Regions from separate parts of the Homo sapiens genome. Here regions 1 and 2 are each linked to region 3. Evidence: fine-mapped expression QTL. A gene starts in region 3. Each other region holds a variant in brackets. All regions are shown on one strand. Distances are from middle to middle. Region 1 overlaps TUSC3 (tumor suppressor candidate 3). Region 2 overlaps TUSC3 (tumor suppressor candidate 3). Region 3 holds the start of TUSC3 (tumor suppressor candidate 3).

What was found.
Region 1: its variant is fine-mapped to the expression of TUSC3 in cerebellar hemisphere (GTEx, PIP 0.98). The same link has a PIP of 0.9 or more in cerebellum.
Region 2: its variant is fine-mapped to the expression of TUSC3 in prefrontal cortex (GTEx, PIP 0.90).

The regions. Positions count from the first base shown.
Region 1 is chr8:15,610,151-15,615,150 of GRCh38, forward strand. All of the region lies in intron 1 of TUSC3 (tumor suppressor candidate 3), which reads left to right. Among named protein-coding and RNA genes, the nearest start is that of TUSC3, 72 kb to the left of the region's middle. The variant G/A (reference allele first, on the strand shown) is at 2,454.
Region 2 is chr8:15,734,853-15,739,852 of GRCh38, forward strand. The region is part of intron 7 of TUSC3 (tumor suppressor candidate 3); the gene reads left to right. Among named protein-coding and RNA genes, the nearest start is that of TUSC3, 200 kb to the left of the region's middle. The variant A/G (reference allele first, on the strand shown) is at 1,951.
Region 3 is chr8:15,538,198-15,543,197 of GRCh38, forward strand. TUSC3 (tumor suppressor candidate 3) reads left to right here and starts at 2,066. Exons shown (of 11, transcript NM_006765.4): 1 at 2,066-2,371. The coding sequence starts at 2,234.

The sequences.
Region 1 (5,000 bases), 72 kb after region 3:
TTGTTTTTATGAGGGGCTTTGCGTTTTAGGCACTGGATTTATTTCATAGCATACTTTGAAATCCATAAAATTCCATACATTCATTGATCCGATTTTGTTATTACCACAAGTATCAAATGCAAAATATTTCAGTATACTGCATGATGTTTTCGCTGATAAAATTAAGGTATAGCAACATCTAACATTAGAATTCTTAAAATTATTGCTGCAAGGGAGTAGTTAAGTTTCTCATGGAGAAACATTTCTGGTATTTTCAATGTAGAATTTAATGTTGATGTGTTTCTGTGAATTCACTGCTTCCTTTATTAATTTTTATGAATAAGGAAATACTAGCAAACTTGATTTATTTTAAATCTTTGGAATATTAATTTAACATCTGGCAACAGCAATTCTTAAGTTCTTATTGTTATACTGATTTTATATATAAGTGAGATACATATGCAAGTTTCGGAAACAGTTGTTACTTCGAAATATTCTTTTTTGCCTTTGAACCAGAGAATAAATAGAGCAAAGAGACTGGCAAATTGAAGTAAACCCCTTTAAAAAAGTGACATTTGAATAGGGCTACTGTGTTAGCAATTCCTATATTAGAGCGTAAAAGTTTTACAAATTTTCCATTCATTCAGTAGAGGTATAGGGAGGGCTTGAGGGCCTCTCAGGAGCCACCAGTGTTCAGGATGCTCTCCGGGGTACAAAGATGGTCAAAATGTGGATCTCTCCTCAGGGAAAATTTCTGAGGAGAGTTCAGGTTGATAGACACATAACTAAAAGAGTGTTACTGGACTTATTTTTAATATGTCTCTAGAAAAAGTTCACTTAATTGAATATTGTAGTACCGTCCACTGAAAGCTTCTTTTTCAAAAAAAGTGTGATATTAGAATAACTTAATTTCTCTATTTCTCATTAGATAACTTTACACAAACAAAAGGTCTTTAGGATCTTCCCAGAGGTGGAATTGGTTTGGGATTTTACAGTATTTCTTTCTTTAATTTTTATAGTGTTCTGTATCAAATATTTCAAAGAACTTTTTTGTTGTTGCTGTTGTTGTTTTTTTGAGACAGAGTCTTGCCCTGTCTCCCAGTCTGGAGGGCAATGGCGTGATCTCGGCTCACTGCAAATCCCGCCTCCCAGGTTGAAACGATTCTCCTGCCTCAGCCTCCCAAGTAGCTGAGATTACAGGCACCTGCCACACATCCAGCTAATTTTTGTATTTTTAGTAGAGATGAGGAGGTTTCACCATGTTGGCTAGGGTGGTCTCAAACTCCTGACCTCGTGATCTGCCCGCACCGGCCTCCCAAAGTGCTGGGATTACAGGCGTGAGCCATCGTACCTGGCTACCTTTTTGCTTTTGAATGTAATGATAATTGTTTTCTGATGGATTGCTGATTACATTATCTCTAGAGAGACCATGATTTGCTGAGTTCTTAACTGATTAACCTCTTGGAATTTTTGCTTTCTTTATGGCGTGTGTGCTGTATGCATTTTATATTTCTGATAAAAATGGTGTATTTGTTTAATTTACTGTATAGCTCATTGTGGTCTTCTGAGTGCCTTTAAAGGTAGTGGTGGTCTTTACTGAACTATCAGTTTGTAATGTAGATGAGGTGGTATAGTGCTTAATCTCTGATTTTTTGGTTCCTAGAAGCATTAATTGCCCTTTATATATTTTTAAATCTGTTAAGTATGACATAATATTAAGAAATATGAATACAGATTTTTAAGATCGAATTTCCAACATGGAAGATAACTTTTCTACTAAATGCAAAACGATATGCATCTGGCTGCTCATGTTTGGTTTATCGTTGGGTTTTCATTGAACTCCTTAAATATTAGAGTCTTGAAAAGTAAAGGCTTCTTGTTCTCTTAGAGACTCCTTTAAAAATATAAGAAGAACAGAAGGGGTCATGATATTGTTTCTGTGGGTTAGCAGTTGATACCTTCAACATGTACGTCTTGTTCTCATTCCAGATCTGCATGCTGTGAATTACTATAAGCAAGTTTTATTATGGCTATTTTGATGAGTACCTGCTATTCAGATAGCAGGTACCTGAATAAGTACTGTATATGTGACTGGTAAACAAACACGTGAATAGCTGCCCCCCTGGCAGAGGCATCTTGGTTAAAGACATGAGACCACATATCTTTTTGCCTTGGTACATCTGGTCATGTTCCTAGGGATAAAATGTTGAAACAAACAAACAAACAAGAAAGAGTAAAAAATATGAGATTAGTGAGCTCTTATTCTATTTAAGCTTCACTTTGGAATGAACCATTGTATTACGTATTGTTTAATGCAATGTACTATTTCTTGTATTTTTGGTTATAAATTGGTTATTGTAGTAAAATGTGAATTGAGAAAAAATGGAGTGGTGTCATAATTTGGAGACTGGTATATAGATTATGCCAGCTTGTTTATTATACTGAGTTGCTATAAAGTTAAGCCTTCATAAAAT[G/A]TTAAGATAAAAATACAAGAAGGAAAAAATATAAGAAAGAGGAATGGGCATCTGAACGTATTATGACTGATTCTATTAACTTCATTCATAGATGTGACCTTCTAACCTTTGTTTTTTATAAAGTAACAAGGATGGGGCTTTTTTGTTTTGTTTTGTTTTTGAAGATTCTAAGTTACAGATTTCTTTTTCCTTTTCTGATGTGACAGATTTATGGCATCTTGGACTGTATGTCCCATCTTGTATCAGTAAGAGACAAAGCCAACCGATCACCCACTCTTCACTGATCGGACCAGTCTAGACTTCAGAATCTTCTGCAGTGAATTTAAAGGAGCCACAATATCAGTTAATGTTCACAGAAACAATATATTCTTTACCATCCCTTCCTGAGTTGGCACTAAGCCGTTTACTTAAGAGCAGAGCTACAGCCATCGCATATCAATATAAGCCATATTATATATATGATATATATATATATATCATATATATGTATTTTATATGTGTTTGTGTGTGTGTACACATGGACACTTTTTAGTGCTAGAGTTTATTTGCCTTAAGGGCTTGAGAGTAGGATCTGTCTTATTTGTGCCAAATTTGGGGACAATGGGATTCATGTAACATGTCTTACAGTGCTTTTTTTTTTTAAGTAAATTTAGCACAGTGCTTTTCTTGTAATACTCAGAAACATTAGGTAACTCTGAGATTGAAGGTATTAATGAGATTTAAAAAATTCCCACTGCAGATAATTCTTTTAGCAATGTGATCTGTGTTGTTGTTAGATCATGACCTGAAGAAAAGGAAAAGAAATTTGAGTGTCTTAGCATTTGTAAGATGCAGTGCTAAGAGTTTTCCATGCATTGGCCCATGCAGTTTTACAAACATCAAGTCTCATGAGATGTGATGGTTTTATGAAGGGGAAGTTCCCTGTACATGCTGTCTCTTGCCTGCTGCCATGTTAAGATGTCCCTTTGCTGTTCTTCGTCTTCTGCCATGATTGTGAGGCCTCCCCAGCCATGTGGAACTGTGAGTCCATTGAACCTCTTTCCTTTATAAATTACCCAGTCTCGGGTATGTCTTTATTAGCAGTGTGAAAACAGACTAATACAAATACATATAGCATTATCTCAGGTTTTGTAAGAGTTGTATTATATTCCATCTTATAGATATTTCTGTTCTCCTTTAACTTTAACATTCCCTTTAAGCATGGACTTTTTTGACCCAACTTTCATTCTTCACTGGGAATAGGGAGCTGAGATTCATGAGCATAATTTTCTTCAGAAGACCAAAAGGGACACCCAAACAGAGAAGTTTGAATTAGGCCTTTGAGATCTAATTTAGAGATTCACTCATTTTCCCTGTGTTATCTCCCATGTGTACAGGAAGTATACATTTGTGAAGCTTCTGGTGTTTTGTTATTTTTTTTTTTTTTTCGGTGGGGGTCTGAGTTAAGAACTCCATGAAGGATAGAAGAGAAAATTATTTTTTTCTCCCCTAAAGACTTGAGAATTCTCAGATTATTTAGTACCAAAATTGTGTTTCTGAGAGAACTAAGTATTTTCTCTGCATTAGCCATAACACATATTATTTTAATTAAGGTTTCTGTTTTTTTAATCACCTCATGGAAACACTGAGTCTAGGCTGAGATGGGGGTCTTTAGTATTGGATGAGGCTCACTTATGCCCACTAGCCTTTATGTAGGTATGTTTTACATTTCTTAACATGCACTCATTTAAGTGTATGATTAAATGACTTTCAGTAACTTTAGTGAGTGGTACAACCATCACTAGAAATCAGTTTTAGAACATTTTATCTCTTCAGTAAGATATTTGTGACTGTTTACAGTTAATCCCTGTTCTTACCTTGAGGCCCAGACAACTGCTTATCTACTTCTTGTCTTTATAAATTTGCCTTTCTAGACTTTTTATATAAATGGGAGAATAAAATGTGTGGTCTGTTATGTCTGGCTTCTTTCAGTGAATATAATGTTCCTGAGGCTTATCCATGTCGTGGCAGTTACAAGTTGGCTTCTTTTTATTTCCTAGCAGTATTCCATTGTGTGGACCTACCATATTTTGTCTATCCATTCAACAGTTGATGAAAATTTAAGTTTTCATGACATTTAAATTTAAAGTCATGCTTGTACAAATTTGTAAATTGCCTTGGACATAGTAATCTGTGAAATGCCGGATTATTATTCTTTTTTGCTAAGGATATAGTTACATAATAATTTATATATGAAACAGACTCCTTGGGTTAGAATTGAAATTTCCAATTTACTTTTTATATATAGTGAAAGTATACAAGTACAGCTATTCAGGCTGTTATTAAAAAGACCAAAAAAAAAAAAAAAAACCACCCCAAAATTCGGAAAAGGACGCGTAGTAAAGGGAACTCTTGTACACTCATCGTGGGAATGTGAATTAGTACAGCCATTATGGAAAACAGTATAGAGATTTCTTTAAAAACCAGAAATACAACAACCATAATATTCAGCAATCTCAATGATGGTTATTTATCCAAAGGAAAGGAAATCAGTGTATCAAAGAGATA
Region 2 (5,000 bases), 200 kb after region 3:
ATAAATTCATCAAGGCTGGAATACAAATTTTGAGGAGATTGGTGAAAGTTAGGTTAGGCTGGATAATGAAGACCTTGCTGAGAAATTTGAATCTTAGCTACACGTAGTAGATGCAGTGCAATTAATATGCCAATTTTATATATTTGGCATTGGGTAACTTACGAATTCTTTTTGAAGTATTATGAGGTTGAGCCCCGCATGTCTTCTTGATAAATTTGGCTGTGGAAAGGGAAATAGTAGCGTCATGCCTGTTTAGGGAACAGAAAGCCAATGGAGGCTTGCTCCTGTAATAATATTAAGGATAGGGTAGAGAAGGTAGAGCAAAGGAAGCAGGAGTCGCTGGCAGTCGTTCTGGCTGCTGGCAATGGTTCATCCTCCAGCATGAACCTAAGTAAGGGAATGGAGAGTGACTCAGCTGCTGTTTTAGAGGAAGAAGAAACAAAATTGATAATAAATGTCACAAGTAAGGTTCAAGAACAGGAATCAGAGATGATTCTGAAGTTCAGCTATGTGTTGTAGGATAGAAATATGGAGGAGAACAAGGTTTGGAGGGCAATGTTTAGCCCAAAAAAGTTCCTAAGATTGATTAGGCCTCATAATTGGTTGATGAGAAAGGGATTAATTTGTTTAAATTGCTTAAGATCATAAAGCCAATCAGTTGAAGAGTCAAGAACTTAAAACTTTTAACCCATTGTTTTTCTACTTAGTAATATTTTGCCAATAAATCAAAACCTCTGTGGTGAATAGGCCAGTAATGTTCTCACCAAATTATATATTGTGTTTATTTGTTGTAAATATCTGAAAAGATCATCATAATAAAGATACAGTGGATATGTTGATTTATTTTTTATTTTTATTTTTTGAGACGGAGTCTCACTTCTTGGTCGCCCAGGCTGGAGTGCAGTGGCGTGATCTCCGCTCACTGCAAGCTCTGCCTTCCGGGTTCACGCCATTCTCCTGCCTCAGCCTCCCAAGTAGCTGGGACTACAGGTGCACGCTGCCACACCCGGCTAATGGGTTTTTTTTTTTTGTTTTTTTGGTTTTTTTTTGTATTTTTAGTAGAGACGGGGTTTCACTGTGTTAGCCAGGATGGTCTCGATCTCCTGACCTCGTGATCCGCCCACCTTGGCCTCCCAAAGTGCTGGGATTACAGGCATGAGCCACCACGCCCGGCGATATTTCTTTAGTTATTCTATCGTATTTTTGTACAGAAGACAATATCCTCTAGCAGTATAAAAACAAATGTGTGTGGGGATATGTAAACATAAATACACACATACACGCAGGTGCATGTGCTTTGTGCTGAGATACAAGAGTCACAAAACCTGACAAGATGTCTGATGGTGTGGCATTTACAGTCTAAAGGAAGAGGAAGACACACAACAAATGACAGTGCAAATAATTCTTCATTTACAATTATGTTCTTAAAAAGTTTTCAAATGTCCAAAATTCAGTAGACTCAGGCTTGAGGCACATGGATCTTAAGTGGAATATCATGAAGTGAAAATATGCAGTTTTTGAAACCATAATTGGAAGAATTAGTATGCATATGAAATATATAAAATTGTGTTTAAAACTCTTTATATAATTTCCCAGAGTAGAGAATTTGAACTGTGGTATCAAATGATAAAATTAAGGTAGGGTATGTTTTTGATTATAGAATGTTCTTAAAATTCAAAACCTCATGTATGATTTTAATGAGATAATCTTAAATCTGCTTTTCTTACTAAATACACTTATAAATATGGCACAATAAAACAGACATGTAATTACAAGTAGTGGTTTTCTAAAATAAAAAGGCATCTTCATTTCACATTTAGAGAAATGTTTGCAGATATGTATGATTTTACTGTCCTAACTAATCTGCCTTTTTTTCTATCAATCAGTAGTCAGTCCAGGAGGGGCAGAACTATGTCATTTAAAATTTTATTTAAAATTTCAACCAGATCA[A/G]ATTAGTTTCCGTAGACAGTAATGTTCCCACTGAATTCACCAAGATATGGTCTCTCTGTATGAGTGGATATAGAACACGTGAGTTCTAGGATAAGCTTTAGTGTCAACTATATAATCTCTGACCTAAGTTAGAAGATCTCAAGAAAATGACATGAAATAAATATTAGTTAGAAGTAAAATTATTTATATAAAAGTAAAGGTTATACTAGCAATTTAAAATTTTTATTCTTATAAAGATAACATTGCATTTTCTGTGAGCAAAACATTTTTTCCATTTATTATGAAAGAATATGATTTTATTCGCATCTGTTTCTAGTCTATTATAGAGAGCAAACATTCCTTTTAATGTGTTATATCCAAGGAGAAACATACTATAGAAAAAAATTAATGATAGATGCAGTTGAAAATTTTAGATTTAGAATTCTTTAAGTAAGTCTTCTATAATGTGCTAACATTTTTTTCAACGTCTATTTACATTTATCTATCTTTAAATTGAAAACATCTTGATTCCATTCCTAGTAGCAACAGTAAACTTAGCATATGCAATTGAGAAGGGATTATAATGTTTTGTAAATATATTCGTTACTAATTCTGTAGAATGCTCAGTGCCTCTGGGTATTGTATGTAATTTACACAAATAGCAGCTTTTTTATGTGGGATCATGTCAGTATTTTGACTAAGCAGTAGGAAAATGATCAACAGGATCAGCAAAGAAACTGGAGTGTGCACAGTAGTTTAAATATATATTGCCATGATATTAATCAATAAAAATGTGCAAAGTAATACAAAAACTAGGCCAAAGTATGTGTGTATAGGATAAAGGGTAGAGGTCCATCTGTTATTTTCTTTTAATGCTGGGATATTCCAATAAGGCAAAGCTAGACGGCTACACCCATCAATTTAATGACCAAAAAAGAACGTAACATTCTTTTTGGTCAGACGTAGAATCTTTTCAGATTTGGAGGGTCTTTCATTAATCATTCAGCCTTCCACTCAGTGAAAGAAATGCCACGTAAGAACAGTGAGAGATGATCATCTAGCTTCTTCCTGCATATAAAAATTAAGATTTTTATGTTACAAATGTAATTTTCCCCAAATGGTAAGTATTATTCAGTCTCTTTTTCAGCCAAAAATGTTTCAGTTAATACAATGAAATTTAAGCTAAACGATTCTCAACTCAACTCCTAAAGGCCTTGAGTTAAAAAATGTATCTTTAAATAATAGGGAGGGTTAGCGAGCTTAAAGCCATTTTAGTATAATTCATATGTCTTAATTACACCCATCAGGTTTTTAAACGGCTCACTGCTCTTTTCTTGTTAAAGCTTAGAAAACTCACTTTTGCAAGAAACATTCTGAGAAAGAGATCATACTTACTTACTGACCCCGCTGATTTCTAACAAAACATTTTATCTTGAGGTTGTATATAACCTATGTCTAGTAATCCCTTTGCTTTAAAATTCCCACTTTAAGGTTGTGTGCACAAATGTTTACTAAATTCTTGCATTTTAAAAAATTGTCAAGTAAGAATAAAGCTAAATTCCAGTGAGACATAATGGTATACAGTTTTTTTGACATCACCTTAAAATCTTTACAGCAGGGTTTGGCAAACTAGGACCAGTTCAGGCCCAATCCAACCTGCCTGCTATTTTTGTAAATAAAGTTTTATTGGAACACAGAAACACCCATTCATTTACGTATTGCCTGTGACTACTTTTGCACTACAACAAGTTGAGTAATAGCAACAGACTCCATATGACTTGCATAGCTGGAAAATACGTGTGACTCTTTCCTGAAAAAGTATGGCAATTTCTGCTCTATAGGCTGTGGTCAATAAAGAACACAAAAATCCACACTTTTATTAACTCACCCGTGAACAGTTACTGTTTTTATCTTTCATTCCCTGCAATCATTTCTTTGCATTTGTTTTAAAGGAGTCAGGTTTTATATATACTTTTATACATATTATACAAACATATACATCTTTTCACTTGGTATGGTGACAAAATTACTATTAATATATCTTGCTTTTTTTTTTTTTTTTTTTTTTTGAGAGGGAGTCTCACTCTGTTGCCCAGGCTGGAGTGCAGTGGTGCAATCTCGGCTCACTGCAACCTCTGCCTCCCAAGTTCAAGCAACTCCTCTGCCTCAGCCTCCTGAGCAGCTGGCACCACAGGCACGCGCCACCATGCCTGGCTAATTTTTGTATTCTTAATAGAGACGGGATTTCACCATATTGGCCAGGCTGGTCTTGAACTCCTGACCTTGTGATCCGCCTGCCTCAGCTTCCCAAAATGCTGGGATTACAGGCGTGAGCCACTGCGCCTGGCCTCTTGCTTTGTTATTAAGAATTTTTGTCAATTTCATTTTATATGGCTAGTTAACCTGTCACAAAAATATCTCATATGTTATAGTTGGACATTTACATTTTAATTTTTCACTATATAAATTATTCTAAAATAGATTTTTGTATGTATATTAAGTTTTTTCAGTATTTTATGTTTTGCCTTATTTATTTGGGAATAGCTTTATAGGAGTGTAGTTCATGAGCATACTTCTGGCACATATAATTAATGATAATTGATGATTTGCTGAGGTTTTTGACATGCTGAAATCTTAAAATTTTCATGTTGACTTGGGGTTTCTGTTCCATTTCTGCCCTGTTAATAGGGAGTCTGCATATTTTTTTAACTCATATAATTTGAAAAATGCTATATTGTTACTGCATTTGCTCCCAACAAAAATAGTAAATTATAAAAATGATTTAAAGCAGCGTGAAACATAAGTGATATAAAGGTAAATTCATAGACATCTTTAAAATGGCAATTTTGTGAGTTATTGCAAACTTATTTGTAAAATCTGGAATATGTTTATGGAGTAGTAAAATGTATTTGAATGCTCTGTGCTTTATGAAGAAGATTTTTATTCTTAGCCTAAAGATATTTCATGCTGAAACTGGGCTAGCAATTATGTTCTTTGCCCAATGCTTGTTATCATTTTCATCTAATCCTGATATCATCTTACTTCATTACTTTTGTGCTTTTTTGCTTTGC
Region 3 (5,000 bases):
TGTAGCCAATTAGGTAATTTCCTTACTTTGTTTTTATGTTTAGTCTATTGAAGCTTGCTCTCAGGCCACTGGAGCTGAGCTTTCTGAACACTTCTGGTTCAGAGTGCTGCAGATTTATGAATTGTTGTTTGCTGAAATAAGGTGTAAAGTTTATTTTGTCTAAAGTTTTTAACAGGAGTGATAATTCAGGCAAAATGTTCACATAATAGTGGGAAATCAAAAGCTTGCGATACAGAAAAGTGATATATATTTGTAAACTCCTTTAACAAAGGCATCGTAGCATAAGCATGACTGTAGAGCCAGACTGTCAATGTTCAAATTTTTTCTGGGCCTTAATTTCTTTATCTGAAAATCGTTAACAGTGGAACCTAGTTGATAGGGTTGTTGTGGAGCAAGCGTTCTTAATCTGGAGTCCATGAAATTTCAGCATCTGTGAACTTTGTATTGAAAAAATCGTAACTTTATGTCTATTAACCTCACAACAGTTTCGTTTCTTTGAATTATAAAGGCAGGCAACAAACCACAGTAGTATTATCAGTACCTACAACTTTGTTTCCTACAGAAATTATTTTCATACTCAGTAAGTTGTTGCAGATATCTTGAACAATTATACGTATATATTCCTTAAGTATTATATATATAATATTTTTATATTCTGTATATATTTTTGGAGACAGGGTTTTGCTCTGTCTCCCAGGCTGGAGTGCTGTAGCATGATCGGAACTCACTGTAACCTCAAACTCCTGGGCTCTAGTGATCCTTCCAGCCTCAGTCTTGGAATAGCTAGGACTACAAGTACTCCCCACCATACCCAGCTGTTAATTTTTTTTTTTTTCGTAAAGACAAGGTCTCACTATCTTGCCCAGGCTGCTCTCCAACTCTTGGACACAAGCCTCCTGCATAGGTCTCCCAAAGCATTGGGTTTACAGGTGTGAGCCACCGTGCCTGGCTAATACTATGTATTTAATTTCATGCGTTTAGAAATATGTGCTATTTTAAGAAGGCGTCTACAGGTTTTATCACATTACCAAAGGTGTTCATGGCACAAGTGAAGAAATCTCTAGATACTAGAGTAATAAAAACCATGATGCATTAGAACGGATCAGGCCCATATCAAACGTTCAACATACAGTCTGCTGCTATGGTTCTTTTTTTTTTTTTTTTTTTTTTTTTGAGACAGAGTCTCATTCTGTCTCCCAGGCTGGAGTGCAGTGGAGTGATCTCGGCTCACTGCAACCTCTGCCTCCCGGGTTTATGCCATTCTCCTGCCTCAGCCTCCCAAGTAGAGGAACTGCAAGGCGCTCCACCATGCCCGGCTACTTTTTGTATTTTTAGTAGAAATGGGGTTTCCCCATGTTACGGCAGGCTGGTCTTGAACTCCTGACCTCAGGTGAGCCACCTGCCTCAGCCTCCCAAAGTGCTGGGATTACAGGCATGAGCCACCATGTCCAGTCTGCTATGGTTCTTAAAATATTCATAGAATAGAAATTGAAGTAAGTCTATTCGTTTTTATATTAAAAGTAGCTAGTACGGTGCTCTGTACTTATGCACTCCATGGATGCTGAATGAGTCATTGAATGAAGTGGAGTCTAGGTTGTGCCTCAGGCCTTCCAGTGGGGCTGGAAGGAACAGTTGTGAAGTTGTGGGGCGGCTTCTGTGCATCGGGGGACTCTGGAGTTAGATGGTTTCCCAGGGCTCTGAAGGAGAAGAGCTGTGTTCCTAATAATGATCTCAATGGGAATAGAGATTGCTGGGGACCGCAGGGGCCAGGTTGTCATTCCCCAAAGCTTCCCCTTCATCATCCAAGAAGGCATTCAGGTCTTTCTGTGCTAGGCCCCAGGTAAAGTGCTGGACTACCCAGTAATTGGGTTCAGTAGCAGGATGGCCTCAGATTGAGGTCCCAGGGCCAAAGGACCACTCCTCTCCTCAGCGCTGGTCCGGGAAAGGCAAGCTCCGGGCGGGAGCGCACGCCGCGCCCCCGAAGCCTGGCTCCCTCGCCACGCCCACTTCCTGCCCCCATCCCGCGCCTTTCCAGGTCTTCTCCCGGTGAACCGGATGCTCTGTCAGTCTCCTCCTCTGCGTCCTCGGCCGCGGCCCGGGTCCCTCGCAAAGCCGCTGCCATCCCGGAGGGCCCAGCCAGCGGGCTCCCGGAGGCTGGCCGGGCAGGCGTGGTGCGCGGTAGGAGCTGGGCGCGCACGGCTACCGCGCGTGGAGGAGACACTGCCCTGCCGCGATGGGGGCCCGGGGCGCTCCTTCACGCCGTAGGCAAGCGGGGCGGCGGCTGCGGTACCTGCCCACCGGGAGCTTTCCCTTCCTTCTCCTGCTGCTGCTGCTCTGCATCCAGCTCGGGGGAGGACAGAAGAAAAAGGAGGTAGAATGGATCCCCTTGGCCTTCCCCTGTGGGCGGGGGCGGGCCAGGGTGGGCCGCGTTGCCAGGCAGCCCTGCCGTGTTGCTAGGCAGCCTGGTCGCCGGCGTGGGCGATGCCGGCGCTGGGGCGGGAGCCGCGAGGGTGGGAGGCCCTGGGGCGTTTCCGGGACGTGGAGTTAGCAGGGTTCTGACTTGAAAAACGACGGCAAAGCGTGTTCTTGACTGCTTCTGAGCACCTCACACCTTTCAGACCCAGGGCGCCTTTATTCCCAGCTGGAAGCCCAGCTTAGAGCAATGGTGCCACTAAAAGGGGTGTGTTGGATGTGAAAATACCCTTTGGAAGTATTTATAAGCCTGCAGGAAATATGTTTTCCTTATTTTCTTACTCTGCTCCCTTCATTACCCATTTCAAGAAGCAACAGAACCTGTGCAGAGTGTGTTTTAAGTTACACTGTATGTTTATTTTTGTTTATGTTGAACTCGGTGTATACTTGTGAGAATAAGCTTGCATTTTTTATTTTGTGCAAGTACAACAGAACATATTGAGAGTGTGTTTTAAGTTATCCTGTATGTTTACTTTACGTTGAACTCAGTGTATACTTGTGAAAATAACCTGCCATTTATTTTATGTGGATTTATTTCTGAAGTTCATTCAATCTGATTTCAATCTTAATCCACCATTAACTTTGAAAAGGTTGAGATTTGAAGTGACTGGTTGTATTTAAAGTAGGTGGAGTGTTTGTAAGTTCTAATTATCCATCATGGATAGTTGATCTAGCTGCTTCAGCAAAAATAGTTATTTCGGGAATGTGACTAGGGTTTCTAATTGTGGACCATTTTGGTGAGAGTTATCTGCTTACATAATTGAAGATAGTTTTTCCTGGTTAAGTTGTACACCTACACAGGGCTCAAAATCTGAATTGGGTTTAAGATATTAACAAAATTTTAATAGCTGGGTAGAGACAGTGAAAAAATACCCTCATATGCAGAGTGATTGTTTCCCTTTCTCTTTATTCTTAGTCTGAAACAAATATTGTGTGTTCAATTTTAACTAATGTACCTCTCTTCAGCTTTTAAATTTTAACATGAAAGTAGGTCATATGAAATTATTGGTGAAGTTCTGCTAAGGGATTTAGAGAACCACTGTTAAACTGAAATTGTATTTACAAATATAAATTAATGATTTTTTTTAGCACTTGGTATTTGTATACCATATTCCAAGAGTTTTAGATTTAGGAGTTCACGAGAAAGGTAGAAGAGTGAAGAAAAAGTAGACAGTTTTTTTTGTGGATTACCAAAGCAAAGGGCAATAAAAGATGATGAAGAACTCCATGGAAATTGTGATGTTTTATCTCCTAGGACGATCCCTAGGACCACGCCAATTTTCATTTGAAGGGTGTGAACCCCAAAGTATTTTAAGACTGACCTTAATCAATTTTTTTTTTTTTGCCAGTGTTAAGGATGCACTGGTGACACAGCCTCTGGAGGTCCTGATGGCAGGTGCCCAAGGTGGTCAGGGTACAGCTGGCTTTTATACATTTTAGAGAGACATAATACATTGATCAATACATGTAAGGTCTACATTGGTTTGATCTGGAAGGGTGGGACAACTCAAAGGGGGAGGGGCATCCAGGTCATAGGTAGATTTAAAAATTTTCTGATTGGCAATTGGTTGAAAGAATTGTTATTAATAGAAAGGAATGTGGAGACCATGGTTTTATTAGCCAGATGAAGCCTCCAGGTGGCAGACTTCAGAGAGAATAGATTGTAAATGTTTCTTATCAGACCTAAGGTCTGTGTTGATGTTAATGCTGGTTGGCTTTTCCAGAATTCCAAGAAGAAGGAGGGTATAATGAGCATGTCTGGCTCACTTTTCCCATCGTCGCCTGAAGTGGTTTTTCAGGTTAGCTTTGGGATATGCCCTCGGTGGAGAAGAGGGGCCCTTTCAGATGGCTGGGGCAGAGGTCGGAGGGTGCTTACATTTTTGTTTTTCGTTTACAAGGGGAAAAAAAAAATCTAAAAAGTGTACATGTTTACAGCATCTGAGTATCTCCAATAATAAGATGACTTTAATATGTGAAAACATTTGTGGATTTAGTATAATTAAATCTAAATTACAGCAACATGTTTCTATTAAAATTTTTTCTCGAAATATATTTTTGAAATGAAAAATTAGGGAGAACATTGTTGAGGATTAAAAAAGTTTTTCTTGCAAATTAGTTTTATTTCTCCTAAGTAGGAGCACTTGATTTCACTGTATGACAGTATTACAGTGTATGTATATTTTACTGAAGAAAAGAAGAGCAAAATAAGAGCTTAAATAGTTGATGTTTTCAAGACTGTACTTTCAGGGATCATTTCTATAGTTTGTTAAATACTTGGTGTTCTGATACTTTACTCAATAAGCATGCGTATCTCTGAAATACAGGCCATTCCGTATCTGGTACTCACTAAGTTCACAAACTGTGATCTCTTCCAATATTGGAAGGGAAACACGCTATATTGGAAAGTGTGGTCACCAATGTGGTATTTTCCTAGTGATAGCCCAGGGTTATTTTGACAGTATGTGGTCTCTTTCTGTCTAGCTGACTTTAAAACCTGATGCCTATGATAAGATTTGGCACAATGGAAC